Linked DNA regions of Homo sapiens. The gene in region 1 interacts genetically with each later gene. Each region holds a gene or a part of one and is shown in the gene's direction. Other genes may lie near its edges.

Region 1 (3,500 bases):
ACCAGCCTGGCCCACATGGTGAAACCCCATCTCTACTAAAAATACAAAAATTAGCCAGGCGTGGTGGTGCATGCCTGTAATCCCAACTACTCAGGAGGCTGAGGCATGAGAATCACTTGAACCCGGGAGGCAGAGGTTGCAGTGAGCCAAGATTGCATCACTGCACTCCAGCCTGGGCAACAGAGCAAGACCCTGTCTCAAAAACAAAAACAAACAAACAAACAAAAATATATATATGCTTGAAAATTGCTAAGAGAGTAGATTTTAGTTGTTCTTACCACACAAAAAAATAAGTATTTGCGGTAATGGGTATATATTTGAGGTAATGGATTTGTTAATTAGCTTGATTTAGCCATTCCACAATGAGTACATCTATCAACACATGTTGTACATCATGAATATACACAATTTTTATTTGCCAAAAAATGTTTAAATATGCCATAAGTAAATTAAATAAAATAAATTTCTTAGAACATTATTTATAAAAATAAAGCAAAAAACCAGATCTGTCCAAATATAACTAATAAACTGACTCTCATTATTTAACACTCAAGAGTTGGCTGGCATCAGGATTTTCATAATACCATGGCCATTAAACAGTTTTCGTGAATCCAGGCCTTCGTTACCCATCTCTTCTGCTTCTTCCTCACCTTACTGACTTCTTTCTCATGTACACAGAGTGCGGAATATCTGTCTCATGAGTCACCAGCCTTTGGGCAGAACCCAAAAAATTAGGTGAACTAGAAATATATTGTTGCTAAGTGGCTCGGTTTATCAGACAATTCTAAAATGCCTACTAGGCTGCCTAGCTGCATACTTTTCTGCCTAATGTACAGGACCTCCATCTTGTGACTGTCAAAACAGGCTCCTAAATTATTTTGCATCATTTGGTGACAGGCAGTCTATACTCTTGTGCAACCAACAGGTGCCCAATAAATGCTTGGAATATGCAAGGAACTTGGCATTGTTTAATATAATTGAAAAAGCAAGCATGGACTTTGAAACTTTCCTGAATTTGAATTCTGTCTCCACTCCTTATCACCTTTAAGAATTTAGGGCCTGGTGCGGTGGCTCATGCCTATAATCCCAGCACTTTGGGAGGCTGAGGCGGGTGGATCACTTGAGATCAGGAGTTCGAGACCAGCCTAGCCAACATGGTGAAACCCCATCTCTACTAAAAATATAAAAAATTAGCCGGGCATGGTGGTGCATGCTTATAATCCCAACTACTTGGGAGGCTGAGGCAGGAGAATCGCTTGAACCCAGGAGGCAGAGGTTGCCGTGAGCCGAGATCCCACCATTGCACTCCAGCCTGGGCAACAAGAGTGAAACTCCATCTAAAAAAAAAAAAGAATTTAGGGAAGTTATTATCTTCCTGCATCTCCTTTCTCCTCCTATGTAAAATGAAAATAATAATGTCTAATTCATAAGCGTTTCATAAGGATATGATGAAAGCCCGATGCAGTAGCTCACGCCTGTAATCCCAGCACTTTGAGAGGCTGATGTGGGTGGGTCACTTGAAGTCAGTAGTTCGAGACTAGCCTAGCCAACATGGTGAAACCCTGTCTCTACTAAAAATACAAAAACTAGCTGGGCATGGTGGCAGGCGCCTGTAATCCCAGCTACCCGGGAGGCTAAGGCAGGAGAATCGCTTGAACTCAGGAGACTGAGGTTGCGGTGAGCTGAGATCGTGTCACTGCACTCCAGCCTGGGCAACAGTGCCAGACTCTGTCTCAAAAAAAAAGCCCGGGCATGGTGGCTCACGCCTGTAATCCCATAATCCCAGCACTTTTGGAGGCCAAGGTGGGCGGATCACCTGAGGTCAGGAGTTCGAGACAGCCTGACCAATATGGAGAAACCACATCTCAACTAAAAATACAAAATTAGCAGGGCATGGTGGCGCATGTCTGTAATCCCAGCTACTCGGGAGGCTGAGGCAGGAGAATCACTTGAACCCAGGAGGCGGAGATTGCAGTGAGCTGAGATTGCACCGTTGCGTTCCAGCCTGGGCAACAAGAGCGAAACTTCGTCTCAAAAAAAAAAAAAAAAAAAAAAGTGATACCACAACAGCTAGAAGAGGAGGCCAAACTGTTTTTTTTTTTTTTTTGAGACAGAGTCTCGCTCTGTCACCCAGGCTGGAGTGCAGTGGTGCGATCTCGGCTCACTACAACCTCCGCCTACCTGGTTCAAGTGATTCTCCTGCCTCAGGCTCCTGAGTAGCTGGGAGTACAGGCGCGCGCCACCACGCCCAGCTAATTTTTTGTATTTTTAGTAAAGACGGGGTTTCACAGTGTTAGCCAGGATGGTCTCAATCTCTTGACCTTGTGATCCACCTGCCTCGGCCTCCCAAAGTGCTGGGATTACAGGAGTGAGTCACCGCGCCCAGCCCCCATTTTACATTTTTTTATTTGTGCCCACTGCCTTTTTTCAGAGGATGCAGTTAGCAATTTCAGCCACTGGATGGTGCAAATTCACAAGAGTCCAGTGAAAGTTCCTCAATTACGGTCCAAGGTGCACCTGTTGCTACACTGCACCAAGTGAAGGAGGGTGGGGTAAAGGAAAGACTTTTTGGATCTGAAATTTCAGTATAAACATGGATCGAAGTTCACTAGAAGTTCAGATTGAGGGAAATTTTTAGAATTTGATCACTGACAAATCAGGTCATTGAATAAGGAAAGACAAAAGAAAAGTGTTGTAATAATGAAGAGGAAGAGAAAAAGGAACAGATGATGAAATATGAGGGAAAATAAGTCTAAAGAGATGAATTCAAGTGTTAGCAACAATTATAGTATGACCCTTTACTGGTTTGCATCTCCCTGGTAACTGATAGCAACTTTGATATAAAAATAAAGCTTACTTCATTCTCTTCTAGAAAGTCAGCTATGCTACCCTTAGCTTATCCATTTGGTGGTGTGACATTATCAACAAATATTTTTAGTATCTGCTATGAACATGGTGCTTTGTTGATACAAAGTAATATAGAGATATACAAATTAACACAGATACTGGGCTTCAAGCAGAAGAACCAGTAAGTACATATAAGAAGATAAGTAATTGACTGGATTAAGAAAATGTGGCACATATACACTATGGAATACTATGCAGCCATAAGAAAGGATGAGTTCATGTCCTTTGTAGGGACATGGATGAAGCTGGAAACCATCATTCTGAGCAAATATCGCAAGGACAGAAAACCAAACATCGCATGTTCTCACTCATAGGTGGAAATTGAACAATGAGAACACTTGGACACAGGGCTGGGAACATCACACATCAGCGCCTGTCGTGGGGTGGGGGGATGGGGGAGGGATAGCATTAGGAGAAATACCTAATGTAAATGACGAGTTAATGGGTGCAGCAAACCAACATGGCACATGTATACATATGTAATAAACCTGGACATTGTGCACATGTACCCTAGAATTTAAAGTATAATACTACTACTACTATTACTAATAATAGGGAAGATAAGTAATTCAAGGCAACCTGAGGGCCATTGT
Region 2 (3,500 bases), on another chromosome or scaffold:
AAGTTGAAACCAATTTACAAGAAGTTGTTTTTGATTATCTTCATGCCACAGCTTATCAAAATACTGCACTTGGACGGACAATTTTGGGACCAACTGAAAATATCAAGTAGGTATAACAGAATTTCTTGGTGTATAAGGGAATTTATGAATGTTGAAAATAAACATTTACAAATTTTCAAAAAGTATGTTTCAGAAAGTAATTTTCCCCCTGGTAATCTAAGTGAAACTGTAGTTAGCTACATTTTAGTCCCACCTAGCTCCCAAGCACGTGAGTTCATAGGTACTTCGGGAATAAACCAGTAATGGTGTATTTTTTCTTTGATGTAAAAAAGGTGAAGTTCTTTGATGTGTTGCCTGTATCCTATTTCTGACTGCATTTTAGGATACAGTTATGGTCCAATTTGATTTCAGGTATATTATGTGAAGATCTGTTTTTTTTTTGGTTTCCTTTAAAAATTGTTTTACTTCATTTACAGATCTATAAGTCGTAAGGACTTAGTGGATTATATAACCACACATTATAAGGGGCCAAGAATAGTGCTTGCTGCTGCTGGAGGTTAGTCAATTTAAATTTCTACAAATGTTTTAAACACAGTTGTTGGAGTGGTATGCTTATTAGTTTGATCCTGTTGGGAGATACCCTAAGAATTTTCATTTACATAGCAAATAACTGATAGTGTGTAAGGGGAATGTGGAGCACTGGAATCAGAATTTCCCTCTATTTTTTTTAAAGTAGGTTTCATTTAGGCCAGGCATGGTGACTCACACCTGTAATCCCAGCACTTTGGGAGGCCGAGGTGGGCGGATCACGAGGTCAGGAGTTCAAGACCAGCCTGACTAATATGGTGAAACCCCATGTCTACTAAAAATACAAAGTAGCTGGGCGTGGTGACATGCGCCTGTAGTCCCAGCTACTCGGGAGGCTGAGGTAGGAGAATTGCTTGAACCCAGGAGGCGGAGGTTACAGTGAGCCAAGATTGCACCACTGCACTCCAGCGTGGGCGACAGAGTGAGACTGTCTCAAAAAAAAAAAAGAAAAGTAGGTTTTATTTATAGAAAGACTTAATGAACTGTTCAATACATAAGCGTACATAGTAGAACGTGCAAGAAAAGGGCAAAGGAGTGAACTGGGAGAGAGTCGGAAGATGGTGTTCTGTACTTTGAGAATTTTTTGAGATTTTAAATTATTTCTTGAGAACCAACTTCGTCCTTGTTCAAGCATGGAACGGGTATGTTCATTCTTTGATTTGTTCAATCATTCATTTAATAGATCTAATTTTTGGGAAGGAGAAGCACATAGGGAGCCATAAGAATGTTGAATGGGAATCCAAACATGCAGGTGACTTCAGAAGGTTTCCTTGAGGTCATGTTTGAAGCCAGTGAATGAAAAAAAAAATTGACAACAGATATTGCCAGATTTCCTGGCAGTCTGAATCTAGACAGCAGTACATTTTAATTGGTTTCCAGTTTTTTATTTTTTTCTTTTTAAAATACATTTATAGAAATAGAGATGGATTCTTAACTATGTTGCCCAGGCTGGTTTCAATCTCCTGAGCTCAAGTTATCCTTCCACCTTGACCTCCCAAAACTTGGGGATTACAGGCGTGACCCACCGCACCTGGTCTCCAGTTTTCATTTCTTTGTATTTTTTAATATTAGAGCAAAGCGAAGTGTTCTTTCGTGTTGTAAATTTTTCTCTTTTTAGAGATCATAATTTAAAAATTCTAGTTGCTCTGGATTGATTTCTGAGCTAAGTACCTGGCGGGTAATGGAGAAGATGAAAACATTAAATATCAAACATGTTATTCATTGTAGCTACCTTCATTGTACATGGCAGGAAGTGCACTCTGAAATTCTCTTGAGTAACATTGTTTCTAAATTGGCTCTTGCAGACTTGGGCTTAAGTGTTTGAAACTGCCTTGGAAATGGGACAAGAGACTTGTTAGATGGGTCCTCAACAACCAAGCTTTCTGGGACCTCTCTGCCATTGTTGGTGGCATGTGGACAAAATGAGTTTTACTTTGGTTCATGGGTTCATTTTGACATAGCTAAAATTGAGATATCTTTAGTTTAATGGCTTATAGATTAATTAGTATTCATTTTAAATACTACATAAGTGATGTGCCTTATAAATGATTGCATCTTAAATTCAATGAAATAGGCCAGTTTTAAGTTTCTGCTGACCTCTGAATTATGTCTTGGCTACCATTTATCTCTTCTAGGCTAATCATCAGGATGTATAGCTTTTATTTGCCAAATAGTTTTTTGTATCCTAGCTTCATTTATTATAAAATTATAATTTAACATTTTAATTGTAAATTAAGTTAAAGAATCTTAATTTGGGTCTCAAGTAAGGGATATAGAGTCTAAGTAATTCCTGAGTTTTTGCATTTGGATACCTATTGATGTATTCAGAAATTTAGATGACACTATTTTGTTCCTGAGTTCTTTTTTTTTTTTTTTTTGAGATGGAGTTTTGCTCTTATTGCCCAGGCTGGAGTACAATGGCATCATCTTGGCTCACCGCAAACTCCGCCTTCCGGATTCAACTGATTGTCTTGCCTTAGCCTCCCGAGTAGCTGGGATTACAGGCATTTGCCATCACACCTGACTAATTTTGTATTTTTAGTAGGGATGGGGTTTCTCCATGTTGATCAGGCTGGTCTACCTCTACCTCTGACCTCAGGTGATCCGCCTGCCTCAGCCTCCGAAAGTGTTGGGATTACAGGCGTGAGCCACCACACCAGGCCCTGTTCCTGAGTTCTGATAGCAGAGCATGGAGAATAAAGTTTATCTGTGTATCCAGCTTTCTTTTATTTATTTAATTTTATTTATTTTAGAGACAGAGTCTTGCTCTGTCACCCAAGTTGGAGTGCAGTGGTGTGATCTCAGCTCACTGCAAACTCCACCTCCTAGATTCAAGCAGTTCTCCTGCCTCAGCCTCCTGAATAGCTGGGATTATTACAGGCGCCTGCTACCATGCCCAGCTAATTTTTGTATTTTTAGTAGAGACAGGGTTTTACCATATTGGCCAGGCTGGTCTTGAACTCCTGATCTCAAGTGACCTGCCCACCTTGACTTCCCAAAGTGCCGGGATTACAGGTGTGAGCCATGGCACCCGGCTTTTAAAATTTATTTTATTGAGACAGAGTCTTGCTATGTTGTCCAGGCTGGTCTTGAACTCCTGAACTCAAATGATCCTCCCACCTCAGCCTCCTAAAGAACTGGGATTATAGGCGTGAGCCACCATGCCCAGCTCCAGCTTTTTAAAAATTAGATAGAGCCCATATTTGTATTTTCCACTAAAAAATTTTTTTTTTGAAAATTGGCATTTTTTGCTAGTTTGGATCCCAGAGGTTTTTATAATTTAATAGAAAATGATTTTGTAAAACGTGGAGTTTTCAAGTTGTCTTATTCTTAGCTGTGAATCCATTGGTCTGTTGATGAAAACTGTCATTTGCTCTACAAAATGAGAAAGCTGTGCAACCTCAAGCTTTGCA
Region 3 (4,087 bases), on another chromosome or scaffold:
TGCTTCACTGCACTATAGCCTGGGCAACAGAGCTAGACCCTGTCTCAAAAAAATAATAATAAATTTTATATATATATATGAGGATGAAATTACATATGTATTATTTGAACAGAAGTGAAATCTTTTCTTTTTTTTTTTCAGACAGAATCTTGCCGCATGACCCAGGCTAGAATGCAGTGGTGTGATCTCGGCCCTCTGCAACCTCCACCTCCCAGGTTCAAGCGATTCTCATGCCTCGGTCTCCCAAGTAGCTGGGATTACAGGCATGCACCACCATGCCCAGCTAATTTTTGTATTTTTCGTAGAGACGTTCGCCATATTGGCCAGGCTGGTCTCAAACTCCTGGCCTCAAGTGATCTGCCCACCTCGGCCTCCCAAAGTGCCAGCAGCATGCTCGGAGGAGTGACTTTAAAGCTTTTCTACTTGCTTCCTAGAGTAAGGGACGCATTTTACACTGCTATCCAAAACTCATCATAGAAACATACACACACAAAACCAAAGCACACATATACAACTGAGCAAATATTTCATGACATAACACTTTCTCTTACTAAGGGTGACGCGCTGAAATTTTGTATTCTGTCCTATTTCATTTTTTAAAAATGGTAACCATGACCTGCTAAATTGATTTCATTGTCCACTAATAAATTATGACCTCAGTTTCAAAAAGATTGCTTTAGGTAACCAATCATCTTCTGAGATTTATACAGATTGCTCATAATTCTCTCCTATTTTTTAAAAACATGCTGCAGTGAACTGCTTTACACTCATTTTATGACTACTTCTGAGACCAAGATCCCGGATTATGTAATTGTTATTTACTTAAAATTCTGGTAAAATGTAGCCATTATACTGGAAAACTAAATTTTAATCTTGGATCTGTCACCACCATGATATATAAACTTTGGGCAAGTCCCTGCACCTCTCTGGACCTCAATCTCCCCATCAGCAACCTGCTGATCCTACTCCCAGGAGTGTGCTCTAAGTTGAAAGTAGATGCCCCACCCCCTGAGTCAGCGCCGGCAGGACTTCTCACCAAGCCCTTCTCCCCCTTTTCCGCTCCCTGTTCCTGGTTCCTAGGAAGCAGCCCAAGGAGAAGGGAAAAGGCAGGTCTGGGCAGGAGGGAGCAATGAAGGGCGGGGCAGAGGGAGGGCAGGAGGGAGGCCGGCCCCCTAGTAGGAAATGAGACACAGTAGAAATAACACTTTATAAGCCTCTTCCTCCTCCCATCTCCTGGCCTCCTTCCATCCTCCTCTGCCCAGACTCCGCCCCTCCCAGACGGTCCTCACTTCTCTTTTCCCTAGACTGCAGCCAGCGGAGCCCGCAGCCGGCCCGAGCCAGGAACCCAGGTCCGGAGCCTCAACTTCAGGATGTTGACAACATTGCTGCCGATACTGCTGCTGTCTGGCTGGGCCTTTTGTAGCCAAGACGCCTCAGATGGTGAGTCGGGGGCACATCTCCTGCCTCAGGATGGTTCTGGAGAATCTCAGTCTATCTGGGCACATGGCAAGACCACAGGAGAGCTTATCTCACAGCATCTGTGTCTGCAGCTGGCTAGATCTCTCTACAGGGCAGGCAGAGTCTTGGGGACTGGTTCGTGTCCCAAAGCCAAGGTGAGTTAGTACATTTAAGCCCCTGAAAAGGGGGAGATGAAAGAGGCTAGGGGAAACAGGATGACTGGAAACATGAGAAAGAAACCAGCAGAGAGGGTAGGAGAATCAGCCCCAGGGAGAGGGGAGAAAGGGGAACTGAGGGTGATGGTAGATAGGGGTACATCTAGGGGAGACGGGAAGAGGCTCAGAAGAGAAGAGAAATGGAGGGAATGGGAAGACCCTGGGAAAACTGATGGAAGAAGTGGGGGAAGAGTGGGGCAGAGAGAGGTTAGGGGAGGCTAGGGAAAATGGAAGGAGACTGGTCGCAGCTGGTGGAACTGGGGAGAAAGAGATGCTGTGCCTAATAGAACTTATGGGCGATCAGGCTACTGAAGTGGCCCTGTTTAAGCAGAAAAGGGAGTTATTACCCTCCATTATAATTGCACAGGGGCCTCCTTTCCCCTCTCTCACAATCCCCGTAACTTCAGTCTCCCCCTCAGAGAGGCAGCAAATAATAACCAGTATTCAATGAGTGCTCACTATGGTTAATACATGTATTGACCCATTTAACTTGCACAAACCCCTAAAGGTGGGTAATATTATTACTATCTCCATTTTATGAGGAGGAAACTGGGTCACAGAGTAGTTAAGGACCATGTCTAGGGTTATCCATAAATATACTTATTCACATCTGCAGATACAAAGCACAACTTCTCAAATGCAAACACAGACAGGACCCACTCACACACACAGATTTACAACCCCGGACTCATCCAAATGTGCTCTGGGCATCAACTCTGTGCCAGCCTCTTTTCTGGGTGTAGGAAGCAGAGATTACCAAGCATGGTTCCATAGCCTAGAGGAGTCCAGTGTGGCCTGTGTGTGTTTGGAGACAGCCAGGTAGTATCCCGTGAGATACACACTAATATATGGTGGTCTGGGATCACTGAAACAGACACACTGTGTCTCGTGGGGCATCAGAAAAAAATTTCCAAGAAGAGGGCAACTGAGCTGGGTCTTTTTTTCTTTGCTTTTCTTTCTTTTTTCTTTTTTTTTTTTTTTTTTTTTTTTGAGATGGAGTCTTGTGCTGTCACCCAGGCTGGAATGCAGTGGCACAATTTCAGCTAACTGTAACCTCCAACTCCCAGGTTCAGGCGATTCTCCTGCCTCAGCCTCCTGAGTAGCTGGGACTACAGGCATGTACCACCACGCCTGGCTAATATTTGTATTTTTAGTACAGATGGGGTTTCGCCATGTTGGCCAGGCTGGTCTTGAATCCCTGACCTCAAGTGATCCGCCCGCCTCGGCCTCCCAAAGTACTGGGATTACAGGCATGAGCCACCGCGCCCAGTCTCTGAGCTGGGTCTTAAATCATGAATAAACTTCGCCAGGCAGAAAAAGGGAGGCAGAGCAATCCTGACATGCTATTCATGTGTCAGCCAAAGGCAGCATGAGGAATCCCAACTAGTTTGATATATAAGCAGCGGGAAGCGGCCAGAAAAGGCAGCAGGGGCCAGGTCTCTAGCAGCCTTGAATGCCAGGCTAAAGACTCTGGACTTGATCCTGTGGGGAGGCAGTGTAGCAGAATGGCTGAGTGCTGGACTTGACTGCCTACGTGCAAACCTTGGCTCTGCTACACTATCTCTGTCTCAGTTTCCCATGTAGACTGGGGTTAATAATAGTAGCTATTGCATTAAGCCACTGGGGAAAGGCACAAAGATAATAATGTATGTAAAGCCCATTGCCCAGGTTATAATAAGCACTGAATCGACATTGGCTATGATTATTTTTGATTAATGAAGGGGAGGGGGTTATGGCACTGGAAGATTTTAAGTAGGAAAAGGACATGATCTCATCCCTGGGTCAGGTGGAGGTCGGAATAGAGAACGGGGAGATGAAGTAGAAAGTTACTACCCCAGTCTAGATGAGACGGATGAATCCTGAATCAGGGCAGTGGAAGAGGAGATGGAGAACAGGCGATGGAATTGGAATTTTATTCAGGTCAGGATTTGTTAACCATTTGTTCCGTTGGTTAACAGGAAACGGGGGGAGGGAGAGCCGAGGGTGAAAAAGGAGGCAGAAAGGAGTGTCTCTTCCACTGCAGGCCTCAGTTTCCTCATCTGTAAAACGGAGATAATAATCCCTGTCCTGTCCTCCTGGCAGAGTTACTGTCAGCGTCAAACGGGAGAAGCGGTGGGAGGGCACATTATAGTTTATGAAGGGTCGAGAAGGCGGGCGGCCAGCCTCGAGGTAGGGGGTTATTATCTTCCGCTGCCCGCCGCCCCCTCCCACGCCGGCCCAGGCTGAAGCTGACTCTGCCCGCAGGCCTCCAAAGACTTCATATGCTCCAGATCTCCTACTTCCGCGACCCCTATCACGTGTGGTACCAGGGCAACGCGTCGCTGGGGGGACACCTAACGCACGTGCTGGAAGGCCCAGACACCAACACCACGATCATTCAGCTGCAGCCCTTGCAGGAGCCCGAGAGCTGGGCG
Region 4 (4,087 bases), on another chromosome or scaffold:
CATCTTATTGCTGTTGAGGACCCTGAAACACCGTTGTTTAAAGACTTCACACAGAAGGCTCTGAACTGAGCCACTGGGGAAGGGAAGTTTCAGTAACATGACACTAAAATGGCAGAGACGTTAAAAAAAGTTTTTCCCTTCTAGAGCTGTTTTGCGCGCATGCATGTCTGTGTGCATTGGGGCTTTTTAGACAGGCCTGCCCTGTGACTTTGTGGTAGAGGCAGAGAGAAGGAAATTGTCCCCTGAGCACGGTAGGGCCTTGCTGGGTGGGGTCAGAGGCCAGTAGTTCCAGGCCTTTCTCTGTGTCCAGCACAGACCCTTGTCCTTGCTGTGGAAATGATGAGGGATGGAGGGACAAGAGGAAGAATGAGAGGACACACGCCCTGGAGCCCTCACCACTGCCCTGGGGGTTGCCATCTGGAGGAGCCTGGGGATAAGGGTAACCCAGGGAGGCTGGGCACGAGGGAGCTGACTCCACGTTTTTCCCCCCGTTCCTCACCTTCGAGGGCCCTGCTAGGTCACCCCTATGCTGGCATGAAGAGCATGGGGCAATAAACCAGCACAGTCTCTGACCACTTGGAGCGTCTCATCCAGTGAGAGAGACAGCCGTTAAAAGCATAAACATCCAAATAAAGATGCCTTTCCAAGTTGCAGTGGGTGCTATGAAGGGAAAAGAATAGTGGGAAGGAAAAGGATGGAGTCGGTAGAGGGTCATACTTTGGGTGGTCCGGGAACCCTCGCCTGAGGAGTATCATCTCAACTGGGATGTAAGGATGAGTAAAGGGATGGGGGCAGAGCATTAGGGGGAAAGCCTGTGAATTAGAGGAACTGAGAGCAAGCCAGTGGGGCTTCACAGCGGGCGAGTGAGTGGGCGAGGAACGCGGGCGAGGCCATGTAGAGCCTCGAAGATCATGGGAAGTGGGACAGAATTACTACCCAGCCAACAAAGCAAGGAGACACCTTCATCCTGTCAGAAAACGGGGAAACTAACACAGAGGAGCGGCTTGGGATGCAGAGCCTCAATGTCCTGTCCACAAGATGGCAATGGTCACCATGACCTCTGGGACGCTTATGAAGGGCGATGACGAAGCACAGGGGACACGCCGGGCGGGCGCCTCTTCAGGGCTGGGGCTCCCCGCGCCCAGGGGCAGCCCAGGTCCCCGGAACCCAAGCCGCGTCTGCCTCCGGGCCGCGCGGGGGCGCTGTGGTCCGGCGGCGGCCCGGGGCGCTGCGTGGTCGCGGCAGGGGCGGAGGGGGCCGCGGGGAGGGAGGCGGGAAGAGCGCGGCACTTCCGCTGGCCGCTGGCTCGCTGGCCGCTCCTGGAGGCGGCGGCGGGAGCGCAGGGGGCGCGCGGCCCGGGGACTCGCATTCCCCGGTTCCCCCTCCACCCCACGCGGCCTGGACCATGGACGCCAGGTGGGGGCTAGGGCAGCAGCGAGCTCACGTGACCGAGCCCCCGGGCCACGTGACTGCCGCGCCTCAGCACGGGGGCCGGGTGGGGTCCCGGCTGCTCGGCCGTCGGCCAGCATATCGCTGCCCGGAGCCAGCGGGGATGGGAGCTGCGGCTTGGTTTTGTGCTCCTTGGGGAGCTTCGGGCGGAGGGGCTGGGGACCCTGACGTCCCGGATCGTGGAGGGGAGTGTGGGGGAAGGGGCGCTTCCTCTGACCTGAGCAGCCGGCTAGCGTTGGAGGGAACAGAGGAGACCTGTGTGGCCAGAGGGGCGGATCCGCCCCCGGGGAGGGAGGAAGCTCTGCCTGGCCAGCGCCGGCGCACCCCCTCCCCGAGAGAGAGAGAGAGAGAGAGGCTCTTTGTCCGGGCCGGAGCTGCAGCGGAGGGGGCGGGGAGGAGACTCCGGGCACTACTCCAGTGTGGTCCCCTCTGGAGGGCGGAGGGGATGAGGAGCTGCGCCCTAATCCTTATGTCCGCTTTCCTTACAGATGGTGGGCAGTGGTGGTGCTGGCTGCGTTCCCCTCCCTAGGGGCAGGTGGGGAGACTCCCGAAGCCCCTCCGGAGTCATGGACCCAGCTATGGTTCTTCCGATTTGTGGTGAATGCTGCTGGCTATGCCAGCTTTATGGTACCTGGCTACCTCCTGGTGCAGTACTTCAGGCGGAAGAACTACCTGGAGACCGGTGTGTGAAGAAAGGGCGGGGAAGTGAGCTAGGTCGGGAAAGAGGGTATTTGGCCAGCAGTCCAAACGGGATATGACTTGGAGAGGGCGGGAGGTCGGTAGGCCGGACAGCAGGGCAGGCTGGCTGCTCTGGGGAAGATGAAGTGCTATGGAGAAGATTTGGGGCTTGACTTTGTGTGCTTTCTTCAGGTAGGGGCCTCTGCTTTCCCCTGGTGAAAGCTTGTGTGTTTGGCAATGAGCCCAAGGCCTCTGATGAGGTTCCCCTGGCGCCCCGAACAGAGGCGGCAGAGACCACCCCGATGTGGCAGGCCCTGAAGCTGCTCTTCTGTGCCACAGGGCTCCAGGTGGGTAGGTGGGCTCAGCCTCTCTTCCTGGGTTGGATGCCGGTGGGCAGGGATTCTGTGAAGGTTTCCATTTTACCAGTCCCAGAGCTTTGCTGGCTGGTGTGTTTCGTGTCCTCCTCCCAGGGGCACACTGCACCTCCATCTTTGAGGTGTTTGGGGGAAATGCCCTTTTGTTTCTTCCTTTTCTCCTCTCCAGCACTGGTACTGAAAGTTCATGCTGTTATTTCAAGATGTCTAGTGCAGAAGAGAGGACTCCTCTTGCCCTATTCTCTGTGATTTCTACTGTGCCGTTATTATACTTCCTTCCTGCACTGGTGTCTCACATACTGTAAACCCACTGATAAAATTGTGGGGGAGCCATTCAGCCTTCCCCCAGTACTGCATGTGAGAGAGTGCTAACATGCTGACCCCATGGCATTTTGCAGTGGGTACTAGTTCCACCTTGAATATCATGTTGAACTACAGATACCCAATTCTGAGAGTTCTTGCCTCCCTGAATAGGTTTTTCACACACAGTTGATTCCCTACAAGGTGAATCCAGACTTAGGAGGGGAGAAGAAACTTCTACAGAGGAACCAAAAAGTGTATATTTTCCTTTGAATCACTTAGGCATAATCCTGAAGAGAGAGAGGTCAATTTTTGTCTACCTTTTCATTATCTTGCTTATTGTCTCCTTTGTCTCTACCTTCCCCAACAGGTGTCTTATCTGACTTGGGGTGTGCTGCAGGAAAGAGTGATGACCCGCAGCTATGGGGCCACAGCCACATCACCGGGTGAGCGCTTTACGGACTCGCAGTTCCTGGTGCTAATGAACCGAGTGCTGGCACTGATTGTGGCTGGCCTCTCCTGTGTTCTCTGCAAGCAGCCCCGGCATGGGGCACCCATGTACCGGTACTCCTTTGCCAGCCTGTCCAATGTGCTTAGCAGCTGGTGCCAATACGAAGCTCTTAAGTTCGTCAGCTTCCCCACCCAGGTGCTGGCCAAGGCCTCTAAGGTGATCCCTGTCATGCTGATGGGAAAGCTTGTGTCTCGGCGCAGCTACGAACACTGGGAGTACCTGACAGCCACCCTCATCTCCATTGGGGTCAGCATGTTTCTGCTATCCAGCGGACCAGAGCCCCGCAGCTCCCCAGCCACCACACTCTCAGGCCTCATCTTACTGGCAGGTTATATTGCTTTTGACAGCTTCACCTCAAACTGGCAGGATGCCCTGTTTGCCTATAAGATGTCATCGGTGCAGATGATGTTTGGGGTCAATTTCTTCTCCTGCCTCTTCACAGTGGGCTCACTGCTAGAACAGGGGGCCCTACTGGAGGGAACCCGCTTCATGGGGCGACACAGTGAGTTTGCTGCCCATGCCCTGCTACTCTCCATCTGCTCCGCATGTGGCCAGCTCTTCATCTTTTACACCATTGGGCAGTTTGGGGCTGCCGTCTTCACCATCATCATGACCCTCCGCCAGGCCTTTGCCATCCTTCTTTCCTGCCTTCTCTATGGCCACACTGTCACTGTGGTGGGAGGGCTGGGGGTGGCTGTGGTCTTTGCTGCCCTCCTGCTCAGAGTCTACGCGCGGGGCCGTCTAAAGCAACGGGGAAAGAAGGCTGTGCCTGTTG
Region 5 (4,246 bases), about 16 Mb from region 1:
ATCAGGCCACTGTACTCCAACTTGAATGACAGAGTGCTAATGACAAATACAGTGTATTAAGAATATCTACATCATGGCCTTGAAACCAAGAAAGAACAACTGATTTAAAGCACAACTTTAAGTATTGATAATTTGGGGAAATAAAACATGATATTTTTTAGAAGACAATTGCCTAAAGCCCTTTCTCCTCTCCCTCCACCTGCATACAACCTCCTCTTGAAATGAGCACTGCTTACTTATCTAATTTATCCAGTATCCTCCTTCCACCTTCTTTTCAAAATCTAAGCTTTACTAGACTGACTGAACAGAAAAGTTAGTTTATAGTAGAATTTATTTCTATAGAGGCCCTTATTCCTAGGGAAGGTTGTAACTTGCTACTTCATGTTACTTTGGAGCTATAATTATGATAAAATTCAACAGTCCAAAAGACAACATGCACGGGTGTTGCTAGTGAGCTGAACGTAAGGCATCACCCTTACTCTGAGCTTGGCCTGTCTAAAAGTCAATGTCATTTATTTTATAAGCTAATTCTTATGCATGAAAATATTGCAATCTTGGCAAAATATATTTTTGCATCCGATGGTCTTAGCTGCCTTCCAGCCTTGCTTAACAACTTCTAAAGGACACACACAAGTACTGCAGGGGTGGGGGGAGTATAAGATTAATTATCTCTTTCCACACAATGCCTTTTCTTTCTCTCCCAATTATGGATAATGAGGCCAGAAGTGTAATTACTGAAGGAGTTTGGAAAGGTAATTACTGAACTAATCTCAAAAATGGTGGTGACCACAGCACAACAAAACTCACTTTATAGCTGTCAGAGCCACTTGGAATGTGATACACATGTTGTGTTTGCAAACCCAGGTGCTGTACGAAAGGTAGTTTCATATTAGCAAATTACCACAACGACCTGCTACATTCTACTCATTTTGATTTTGTAATGAGAAAGCCGATTAAACTGTAATAACTTTAAGTTGTGACTCTTAAACAAGTTACACGTTTTGAAGGAGGTGAAAAAACAAAGATGGCGGGTTTGAGGAGCCTTTCTGGGATCCTGTTGAATATCGAGTCCTGAGATTTGCAAATAGCTCTACCTTCATCTATTCCCACTGATCACTGGAGAGTTAAAGTTTAAGGAAACTTCATAGCAATTCTCAAATTAAAGCACTGAGCTTTGAGACTGCCAGCCAAGGCCTCCTTTTATGCTTAGGCATAAATGTACACGGGACATATAAATTAAATTTCAACGCCATGGTTCCCGTTGCTTCTCTGTTACCTGTTCTTTCTCGCCATGATCCGGAGAGCACGCCACATCCTCCTCCAACCCCTTCACCCTCACTGGCAGAGAACAATCTCTCCATCCCTTTGTGCTCCCGTACCATTCACTCCTAAGCCCTAGGTTCTGCCGCCTCATCTCATCCCTTTGTGACGTAGTGGCCCCAGTCCGGGCCCCGGCGCGCTAGGCTCACAAAGGCAGGCACAGACTGCAACCCTGCTCAGTGCTCCGGGCGCTTCAGGCTGGCTTGGGTCCTGCTGCTCCAACCCCAAGGGCCCTGGAGCGCTCCCTGATACCTCCATCACTCACCATGGCCAGCCAGTTCTGCCTCCCTGAATCCCCATGTCTCTCGCCCCTGAAACCCTTGAAGCCACATTTCGGAGACATCCAAGAGGGCATCTACGTGGCGATCCAGCGCAGTGACAAGCGGATCCACCTCGCTGTGGTCACGGAGATCAACAGAGAAAACTATTGGGTCACGGTAGAGTGGGTGGAGAAAGCAGTCAAAAAAGGCAAGAAGATTGACCTGGAGACCATACTCCTGCTGAATCCAGCTCTGGACTCTGCTGAACACCCCATGCCGCCCCCGCCCTTATCCCCCTTGGCTCTGGCGCCCTCTTCGGCCATCAGGGACCAGCGTACCGCCACGAAATGGGTTGCGATGATCCCCCAGAAAAACCAAACAGCCTCAGGGGACAGCCTGGATGTGAGGGTCCCCAGCAAACCTTGTCTGATGAAGCAGAAAAAGTCTCCCTGCCTCTGGGAAATCCAGAAACTGCAGGAGCAGCGGGAAAAGCGCAGGCGGCTGCAGCAGGAGATCCGAGCTAGACGCGCCCTCGATGTCAATACCAGAAACCCCAACTACGAAATCATGCACATGATCGAAGAGTATCGCAGGCACCTGGACAGCAGCAAGATCTCAGTCCTGGAGCCCCCGCAAGAACATCGCATCTGCGTCTGCGTGAGGAAGCGGCCTCTCAACCAGCGAGAGACAACCTTAAAGGACCTGGATATCATCACCGTCCCCTCGGACAATGTGGTTATGGTGCATGAGTCCAAGCAAAAGGTGGACCTCACTCGCTACCTGCAGAACCAGACCTTCTGCTTCGACCATGCCTTCGATGACAAAGCCTCCAACGAGTTGGTGTACCAGTTCACCGCCCAGCCACTGGTGGAGTCCATCTTCCGCAAGGGCATGGCCACCTGCTTTGCCTATGGGCAGACGGGAAGTGGGAAGACGTACACCATGGGTGGAGACTTTTCAGGAACGGCCCAAGATTGTTCTAAGGGCATTTATGCTCTGGTGGCACAGGATGTCTTTCTCCTGCTCAGAAACTCCACATATGAGAAGCTGGACCTCAAAGTCTATGGGACATTTTTTGAGATTTATGGGGGCAAGGTGTATGATTTGTTGAACTGGAAGAAGAAGCTGCAAGTCCTTGAGGATGGCAATCAGCAAATCCAAGTGGTCGGGCTGCAGGAGAAAGAGGTGTGTTGTGTGGAGGAAGTGCTGAACCTGGTGGAAATAGGGAATAGCTGTCGGACTTCCAGGCAAACACCTGTCAACGCTCACTCATCCAGGAGCCATGCAGTGTTCCAGATCATCCTGAAGTCAGGACGGATAATGCATGGCAAGTTTTCCCTCGTTGATTTAGCTGGGAATGAAAGAGGAGCAGATACAACCAAGGCCAGCCGGAAAAGGCAGCTGGAAGGGGCAGAGATTAACAAGAGTCTTCTAGCCCTCAAAGAATGTATTCTGGCTTTGGGTCAGAACAAGCCTCACACCCCATTCAGAGCCAGCAAACTCACACTGGTGCTCCGGGACTCCTTTATAGGCCAGAACTCCTCCACTTGCATGATTGCTACCATCTCTCCGGGGATGACCTCTTGTGAAAACACTCTCAACACTTTAAGATATGCAAACAGAGTAAAAAAATTAAATGTAGATGTAAGGCCCTACCATCGTGGCCACTATCCGATTGGACATGAGGCACCAAGGATGTTAAAAAGTCACATCGGAAATTCAGAAATGTCCCTTCAGAGGGATGAATTTATTAAAATACCTTATGTACAGAGTGAGGAGCAGAAAGAGATTGAAGAGGTTGAAACATTACCCACTCTGTTAGGGAAGGATACCACAATTTCAGGGAAGGGATCTAGCCAATGGCTGGAAAACATCCAGGAGAGAGCTGGTGGAGTACACCATGATATTGATTTTTGCATTGCCCGGTCTTTGTCCATTTTGGAGCAGAAAATTGATGCTCTGACCGAGATCCAAAAGAAACTGAAATTATTACTAGCTGACCTCCACGTGAAGAGCAAGGTAGAGTGAAGCCAATGGCGAGAGATCAGGTCCGAAATGCTGCATTGCTGCAGTTTCCACCACTCTTATACAGGAAAACTGTCCAAATTATCTAAAGATCCTCCTGAGAAGCTTAAAACATCTTAAAATACACTGATGGGAAACATGCTCTTTCTTCTGCCTCTGTATTTCTGTAGTTTGTTTTCATCCTGCTGAACTATAGTTTTCAACAGGGAATGGTTCCTCCCCACCCCCTACCAGGACATTTGGCGATGTCTGGAAACATTTTTGATTGTCACAACTGGGGGTGATGAGGATACTGGCATACAGTAGTTTGAGGACCAGAAATGCTGCTAAGCATTCTAAAGTGTACAGCAGCAGTCCCCAACCTTTTTGACACCACAGACCGGTTTTGTGGAAGGGAGTTGTTCCGTGGGTGGGGTTGGGGATGAAACTGTTCCACTTCAGATCATCAGGCATTAGTCTCCTAAGGAGCATGCAACAACCTATATCCCTCACATGCACAGTTCACAATAGGGTTCATGCTCCTGTAAGAATCTAATGCTCCTGCTGATCTGACAAGAGGGGGAGCTCAGGCGGTAATGCCCGCTCACTGCCAGCTTGCCTTCTGTTGTGTAGTGTGATTCCCAAAAGACCACAGACCTACC
Region 6 (3,163 bases), on another chromosome or scaffold:
GAGTTCAAGGCTGCAGTGAGGTATGATCATGCCATAGCAATCCAGGCTGGGTGACAGAGTGAGACCCTGTCTCTTAAAAATAAATAAGTAAATACATACATACTGGACTTGTTTGCTAAATCTTAGCGATAGGGACTGTAAAACTTTTCTTTTTCTTGCTTTTTTTTGAGACGGAATTTTACTCTTGTTGCCCAGGCTGGAGTGCAATGGCATGATCTCGGCTCACTGCAACCTCTACCTCCTGGGTTCAACCAATTCTCCTGCCTCAGCCTCCCGAGTAGCTGCGATTATAGGCATGCACCACTACACTTGGCTAATTTTTGTATTTTTAGTAAAGACAGGGTTTCACCATGTTGGTCAGGCCGGTCTCGAACTCCTGACTTCAGGTGATCCACCTGTCTTGGCCTCCCAAAGTGCTGGGATTACAGGTATGAACCACTGCACCTGGCCAGGAAAACTTTTCTTACAAGATGGTAATTCGGTCGGGTGCAGTGGCTCATGTCTGTAATCCTAGCACGTTGTGAGGCTGAGATGGGAGGATCACTTGAGGCCAGGAGTTTGAGACCAGCCTGGTCAACATAGTGAGACCCCCATCTCTATTAAAAAAAAAAAAGATAGTAACTTAAGGAAATAAAATTAACAAAAGGACTGATTTCTTATGTACTTCTATGCTGACTTAGTGTAACCCAAAATTTAACATGCTATTTAATATGTCAGTGCAACTGCTTTTTAGTTTCTGTTTATTGTTCAGGATAATTTTTTCTCCTGATATTCTTGAAGTAAATTTTTAGCTTTAAACAAATTCTTCTGTCACAGAATGACCTTGGTTTTAAAAAAGGGAATTGACTATACTTGCAAAGTTCATTTTTTTTTTCTAAAAAAGAAAAAGGCAGTATTTACACATCTGAATCCTTAATTTGTACCAGTTCTTCAGCACTGTCTTACTTCCTGGCTGCAGGGCCATTTGTTGCCGTATGGTGTTGTAACTTTAGGTTGGTGCAAAAGTAACTGTGTTTTGCATTGACATGGCACCAGCCTAAGAGCTAGCTCTAACTGGCTGAATGTCTTTTCTGACTTTCAACATCACACCAGCTGTATTAGCAGAGATGACTAAGCATTGGGTAATTTCACTTCATGCTAACCACTATAAATTGGTTCAGTTGATGTGTGTGTGTGTGTGTGTGTGTGTGTGTGTGTGTAGACTCCTATATAATTTCTACAATCCTTGCTTTAAAACCTGCAAAATGTATTTTTTGTTTTGTCTTTTCCTTTTTGAGACAGGGTCTCCTTCTGTCACCCAGGCTGAAGTGTGATCATGGCTCACTGCAGCTTTGACCTCCTGGTCTCAAGCAATCCTCCTGCCTCAGCCTCCCAAGTAGCTGGGACTACAGGCATGCACCATCACGCTCAGCTAATTTTTAAATTTTTGTAGAGATGGAGTCTTGCTATGTTTCCCAGGCTGGTCTTGAACCCCTGGGCTCAAGTGATCCTCCCACCTCAGTCCCCCAAAGTGTTGGGATTATAGGTGTGAGCCACTGTGCCTGGCCAAAACCTGCAAACCATGTTAAATCTATGTTGTGTTCCTTTCGGAAGAGATGTCTAATATTAACTTGTGTTATATAAAATCTAAAACATAGGCTTTCAATATTGTTTTAACAGTATATAACAGAATTGGCAAATGCCCTGTCTTACTGTCATTCGAAGAGAGTTATTCATAGAGACATTAAGCCAGAGAACTTACTTCTTGGATCAGCTGGAGAGCTTAAAATTGCAGATTTTGGGTGGTCAGTACATGCTCCATCTTCCAGGTATGTAACTTTAGAGGTGGAAGTTGTTTGGTTTACCAAAGCCCTGGGAGCTAACCGTGAGCTAAATGTAAAATATTTCAGTGTAGATTTTGTGCTGTAAGAGGGGTAGGTGGCTAACCCAGAAGTACTTTGGAGTAATTTAGGCTTAATAATAAACTAGGGTTTGCAAGAAAGTGTTATTCTGTGGAGATTTGGGGCTATTAGCAGTGTTCTAGGCCTAGGGTTGAAGATGCTTAATGTCCTTAGAGGCTAATGAAGGGATGAATGAGTCAACAGATAGGACACGTATATGACAGAGGTGAAGTGCCCACATGTTGAGTGGGAGGAACTCTTCACCTCTGCTGCTTCCTGGATGAGGAGATGGGGAGATGGTTCAGAGGACAGCACTGACAAAGATCTAGAGCTCAGAGTGCAGGCCATATCAGGGAACTTGAAACACTAAATTAGTTTGGTGGTGCTTTGAGGGCAGTGGTGAGAGATTCTCTTCAGTCTGCCTCTGTCAATAGTAGGGATAGTCCTTTCTTATCCCCTGTCACAGCTGAAGCAGAGATGTCAGTCTCAAAACAATTCAAATCTTAGCTTTCCAAGTGAACTACAATATCTTTACTGTTTTAAATTTGAGTTTAAATAAGCTTTGAAACTTCACATGAAGTGGGGCATTTTAAAACATATATCTACCGATGAAGTTTTGTCAACTTTGGAGGAGGACTCAAATTATAGCCAAATGACTTAAAAATCAAGCTAGTTAAAAAAAAAGTATAGCCTAAAATAGAATATGAGGGAGAAAACCTTTGCTTTTGTTACAGAGCACTTCTAATTGTTCCAGCAATGCACTGAATCTGCTATTGCAGTCTTTTTTTTTTTTTTTTTTTTTAAACTGGTTGTCATTAGTGGGAGCTGTTATCTGGTGAGACAAACCAGAATAAAGACTTACAGGCTTCATGGAATCGCAGAGTTAAACTGTATCTTAACCGGTTGAATTGTGATAGAAAAGATGGCTTCTTGCTTTTTGAAAAGATTACTTACATAACCGATAGTCACTTCACTCCAAATCCCAGATGTTAATCATCATCATTTCCTGGTTATTGCCTCAGTTTGAGAACCCCCGATTCAGTCCGTCGGTGCTGATGGAGGGGTTAGATGACCAGAGTGGTAGCTTCTTAATCCTACGTCACAATTCAGTGGTGAGTGACTGTTTGTGTGCTCAGTGGGTGCCAGGCCTGGCTGAACACAGCACCAGGGCTGTGACCACGTAAGCCTCCATGGTGAAGAGCAGCTGATAACAAAGCAACACGAACCCACACAGACTGTTCTGGCTTGCTGTCTGCTGTTCCCAGCTTTTTTCCAACCTTCGT
Region 7 (3,500 bases), on another chromosome or scaffold:
TATTACAATGGCCTGGAAGCCTCCTTGGTCTCCCCTTCCCCCACATCCACTACCTCTCTGGTCACCTCTTCTCCCTCCGTGCTTACTCTACTTTAGCCATAAGGGCTCCTGACTGTTCCTTGAACTTGAGAGCCTTTGTACCTGCTGTTCATTCTACAGTCTTCATTTATATATCAATCATATGGTTACTTTCTTCAGGCCTTTACTCATTTTTATTATTTTTGGAGACAAGGTCTCACTCTGTGGTCAAGGCTGGGGTGCAGTGATCATAGCTCATTGCAGCCTCAAAATCCTGGGCTCAACCGATTCTTTTGCCTCAGCCTTCTGAGTAACTAGGACTATAGGCATATACGACCATGCCTGGCTAATATTTTTTATTTTTTGTGGATATGGGGTCTTGCTGTTACCCAGGCTGGTCTCAAACTCCTGGCCTCAAGCAGTCTTCTCACCTTGGCCTCCCAAAGTTATGGGATTACAGGTGTGAGCCACCATGCCTAACCATATCACTTTTTCAGACCACCCTAATTTAAACTGTAATTTGACCCTGCCAGCCCACCCACATTCAGCACTCATCTCTTCTCTGCTTTTTTTACATAGCCTCTTTAATTCAACATATCACACTTGTGTGATTTTCTTCTAACCTAAATATAAGTTCCAGTGAGAACAGTTTTATGTATTTTGTTCCTGCTGTATCCCTAACACCTAGAACTTAATATATGCTCAAGAAATATTTGTCAAATGAATTATTCTCACCAGGCAAGAGAAGTTGACAATACTGATGACCAATTCTCTTGACCCCTTCTAAGCTGGGCCACTAGACCACCCAGTATATGCGCTAAGCGTTCCCACTCCTCTGTGGGAGTACTGTGGAGTTTGGTGAGGTATAATAACATTTATATAATTATAACCCAGCACTGGACCCTGGATTTGAAAGAGTTTGGAGCTTGCTACAACGGATTTGGGTGGGAACTTTTTAGATATGTTTGATTACTAAGACTTCACATTACATTAAACAGTTAAAATGTAATTTTGTACTTTATAGCATAAATCACCTGTTTTGGATACAAAGCCCAAGGAGACAGGTGGAATCCTGGGGGAAGGCACACCGAAAGAAAGCAGTACTGAAAGCAGCCAGTCGGCCAAGCCTGTCTCTGGCCAAGACACATCAGGGAATACAGAAGGTTCACCCGCAGCGGAAAAGGCCCAGCTCAAGTCTGAAGCCGCAGGCAGCCCAGACCAAGGCAGCACATACAGCCCCGCAAGAGGTGTGGCTGGACCACGTGGACAGGATCCGGTCAGCAGCCCCTGTGGCTAGAGGAACACCAGCACAAACGACAGCCTCAAGTCTCCTTCGAGCTTTGTAAAGTATACTCTTCACTCTCTTTCTCTTCTCTGCAAGAATTCTGATTACTACAAAGGTGCCAACTTCAACATTCACATTTCAACTTCAACATTCACATTTTTACTGACAATTAGAATTAACAAACACGTTATATATGTAAAAGCTTTTCATTTCATCTTCTCTTTGATATTTACATCCCATAAAGTAAGAAGTGTTTATTTTAAGATGAACAGATGACAGGCATCACTGATTCTGGATAGTTAAGGAGGCCAGTTTGAATTGGGGACATTGAAAAAGAAATTTTATTGTTACAGGCACTTACGGGAACCCACTAACCAATTTACATTGCCTAGTGAATCCACTAGAGTTAAGGCCACCCACTTGATGCCTCCAGCATCTTCATGCAGCCATGGAGTATCGTTACCAGGATCAGTCTGACTGACACCTCAGCTTATCTCTACGCAGGCTGCCCACAGGTCACTGTGGCTGTAGTTTCATCTTTTCCACAGCTATTACTACGCCTGCATCCTTATTGTTCCTTTTACTTTGTTTACTTAGAGAAAACTGAAGACTGCCAGGGCAATTTAGATAACATAGCTTGTTATATTGGTAATCTGTTTTACAGAGTCAGTCGACTGAAAATGACTTTATTCTTTTCCCCCACCAATTGAAGTGCATGGGCTTTTTATAAAACCTATTTTTTGTGTTACTCAGAATCCTAGCAGTGGAGACTATTAGATATTACCATATCTTAATTCATATTATAGCAAATCATATTGTCTTGTCCATAGGAAGTTTGCATTTTTAGAGATCTATACATAGAGAATACCATGATGAGGAAGAAGAGAGTTGGGTGTCTTCCTTAACTGCAGACAGGACATCAGTCAGCACTTTACATTAGTCTTTCTGATTATCAAAAGCATTCCTCATTTTAAACTTTTTAAAAAGCAATGCATAAATTTTGTACCTGTCCTTAGCAGACTTCACAGACATCAGGTGTCCTTTGTTTTAACCATATTCACACTACAAGTTATGTTCAACTGCTTACTAAAAGTGATACCAGTCAGGAATAAAGTCTTTAAATTTTCATGCAGATATTTGTATCCCAAGCACTTGCTTTTTTATTTTAATATGAAATGCAGAATACACATTTTTGGATCCAGGAAGTGTTACTTACGTGCCTGTAACAATGTAATTTTAGGCCAGGTGCAGTGGCTCATGCCTACAGTCCTAGCACTTTGGAAGGTTGAGGGAGGATGATCGCTTAAGTTCAGTTGTTGAAATGCAGAATACACATTTTTGGATCCAGGAAGTGTTACTTACGTGCCTGTAACAATGTAATTTTAGGCCAGGTGCAGTGGCTCATGCCTACAGTCCTAGCACTTTGGAAGGTTGAGGGAGGATGATCGCTTAAGTTCAGTTGTTGAAATGCAGAATACACATTTTTGGATCCAGGAAGTGTTACTTACGTGCCTGTAACAATGTAATTTTAGGCCAGGTGCAGTGGCTCATGCCTACAGTCCTAGCACTTTGGAAGGTTGAGGGAGGATGATCGCTTAAGCTCAGTTGTTCAAGGCTATGTACTAAAAATAAAACTAGCCAGGCATGGTGGTACACGCCTGTAGTCCCAGCTACTTGGAGGGCTGAGGCAAGAGGATCGTGAGGTGGCAGTGAGTTATGATCGAGCCACTGTACTCCAGCCTGGGTGACAGAGCAAGACCTTGTCTCAAAATTATACATGTTAATATATTCTAGTTTAATATTGCAAACATCTTTAGAATTTCATCAGAAACGTGATTTTTTCTAAGAAATGCAAAAGGATTTTAGGATTTTTAACACAGAGGACATGTTTAACAAATGAATCCTGACAGACACCTGCAGTTTAGAATAAATTTGTGAACATCCATGCGTATAAAGTGTCCTCTTGGGACAAGACATGTTCACACTGACTTGGGGAATATGCCCCCAAGGTGAGAGCTGTCTTTTGAACTGTGATCTGACTCTGAAAAGTAGTGAATGCCCCAGGTGATAGACTGTAACTGTGAGTGGAATTAATGCTGCTTGCATGCCTTTTAATCCAAAACCAAATTCTTTTAAAAAATTTTTAAATAAAATTTCACCTTTGTATTCTTTCATTACAGATATCCATTTGGGGATG

Evidence for each region.
Region 2: changes in ACACA (region 1) and PMPCB together harm fitness less than expected from each alone (positive genetic interaction), as found in Homo sapiens cells (one large-scale study listed by BioGRID).
Region 3: changes in ACACA (region 1) and PROCR together harm fitness less than expected from each alone (positive genetic interaction), as found in Homo sapiens cells (one large-scale study listed by BioGRID).
Region 4: changes in ACACA (region 1) and SLC35B2 together harm fitness more than expected from each alone (negative genetic interaction), as found in Homo sapiens cells (one large-scale study listed by BioGRID).
Region 5: changes in ACACA (region 1) and KIF2B together harm fitness less than expected from each alone (positive genetic interaction), as found in Homo sapiens cells (one large-scale study listed by BioGRID).
Region 6: changes in ACACA (region 1) and AURKA together harm fitness more than expected from each alone (negative genetic interaction), as found in Homo sapiens cells (one large-scale study listed by BioGRID).
Region 7: changes in ACACA (region 1) and CLCC1 together harm fitness more than expected from each alone (negative genetic interaction), as found in Homo sapiens cells (one large-scale study listed by BioGRID).

Annotation. Positions count from the first base shown.
Region 1 is NC_000017.11:37,396,837-37,400,336, reverse strand, and holds part of ACACA (acetyl-CoA carboxylase 1), read left to right. Parts: intron 1-3,500. UniProt on the Homo sapiens protein: Cytosolic enzyme that catalyzes the carboxylation of acetyl-CoA to malonyl-CoA, the first and rate-limiting step of de novo fatty acid biosynthesis.
Region 2 is NC_000007.14:103,303,935-103,307,434, forward strand, and holds part of PMPCB (mitochondrial-processing peptidase subunit beta isoform 1 precursor), read left to right. Parts: coding exon 1-106; intron 107-476; coding exon 477-556; intron 557-3,500. UniProt on the Homo sapiens protein: Catalytic subunit of the essential mitochondrial processing protease (MPP), which cleaves the mitochondrial sequence off newly imported precursors proteins. Preferentially, cleaves after an arginine at position P2.
Region 3 is NC_000020.11:35,170,785-35,174,871, forward strand, and holds the start of PROCR (endothelial protein C receptor precursor), read left to right. Parts: upstream 1-1,287; 5' UTR 1,288-1,304; coding exon of another isoform or gene 1,305-1,370; coding exon 1,371-1,440; intron 1,441-3,917; coding exon 3,918-4,087. UniProt on the Homo sapiens protein: Binds activated protein C. Enhances protein C activation by the thrombin-thrombomodulin complex; plays a role in the protein C pathway controlling blood coagulation.
Region 4 is NC_000006.12:44,254,729-44,258,815, reverse strand, and holds the start of SLC35B2 (adenosine 3'-phospho 5'-phosphosulfate transporter 1), read left to right. Parts: upstream 1-1,287; 5' UTR 1,288-1,405; coding exon 1,406-1,416; intron 1,417-1,527; exon of another isoform or gene 1,528-1,634; intron 1,635-1,937; coding exon 1,938-2,131; intron 2,132-2,319; coding exon 2,320-2,474; exon of another isoform or gene 2,475-2,478; intron 2,479-3,171; coding exon 3,172-4,087. UniProt on the Homo sapiens protein: Probably functions as a 3'-phosphoadenylyl sulfate:adenosine 3',5'-bisphosphate antiporter at the Golgi membranes.
Region 5 is NC_000017.11:53,821,448-53,825,693, forward strand, and holds KIF2B (kinesin-like protein KIF2B), read left to right. Parts: upstream 1-1,479; 5' UTR 1,480-1,586; coding exon 1,587-3,608; 3' UTR 3,609-3,746; downstream 3,747-4,246.
Region 6 is NC_000020.11:56,372,053-56,375,215, reverse strand, and holds part of AURKA (aurora kinase A), read left to right. Parts: intron 1-1,659; coding exon 1,660-1,808; intron 1,809-3,163. UniProt on the Homo sapiens protein: Mitotic serine/threonine kinase that contributes to the regulation of cell cycle progression.
Region 7 is NC_000001.11:108,932,485-108,935,984, reverse strand, and holds part of CLCC1 (chloride channel CLIC-like protein 1 isoform 1 precursor), read left to right. Parts: intron 1-1,042; coding exon 1,043-1,315; 3' UTR 1,316-1,360; exon of another isoform or gene 1,361-1,365; intron 1,366-1,439; exon of another isoform or gene 1,440-3,483; 3' UTR 3,484-3,500. UniProt on the Homo sapiens protein: Anion-selective channel with Ca(2+)-dependent and voltage-independent gating. Permeable to small monovalent anions with selectivity for bromide > chloride > nitrate > fluoride.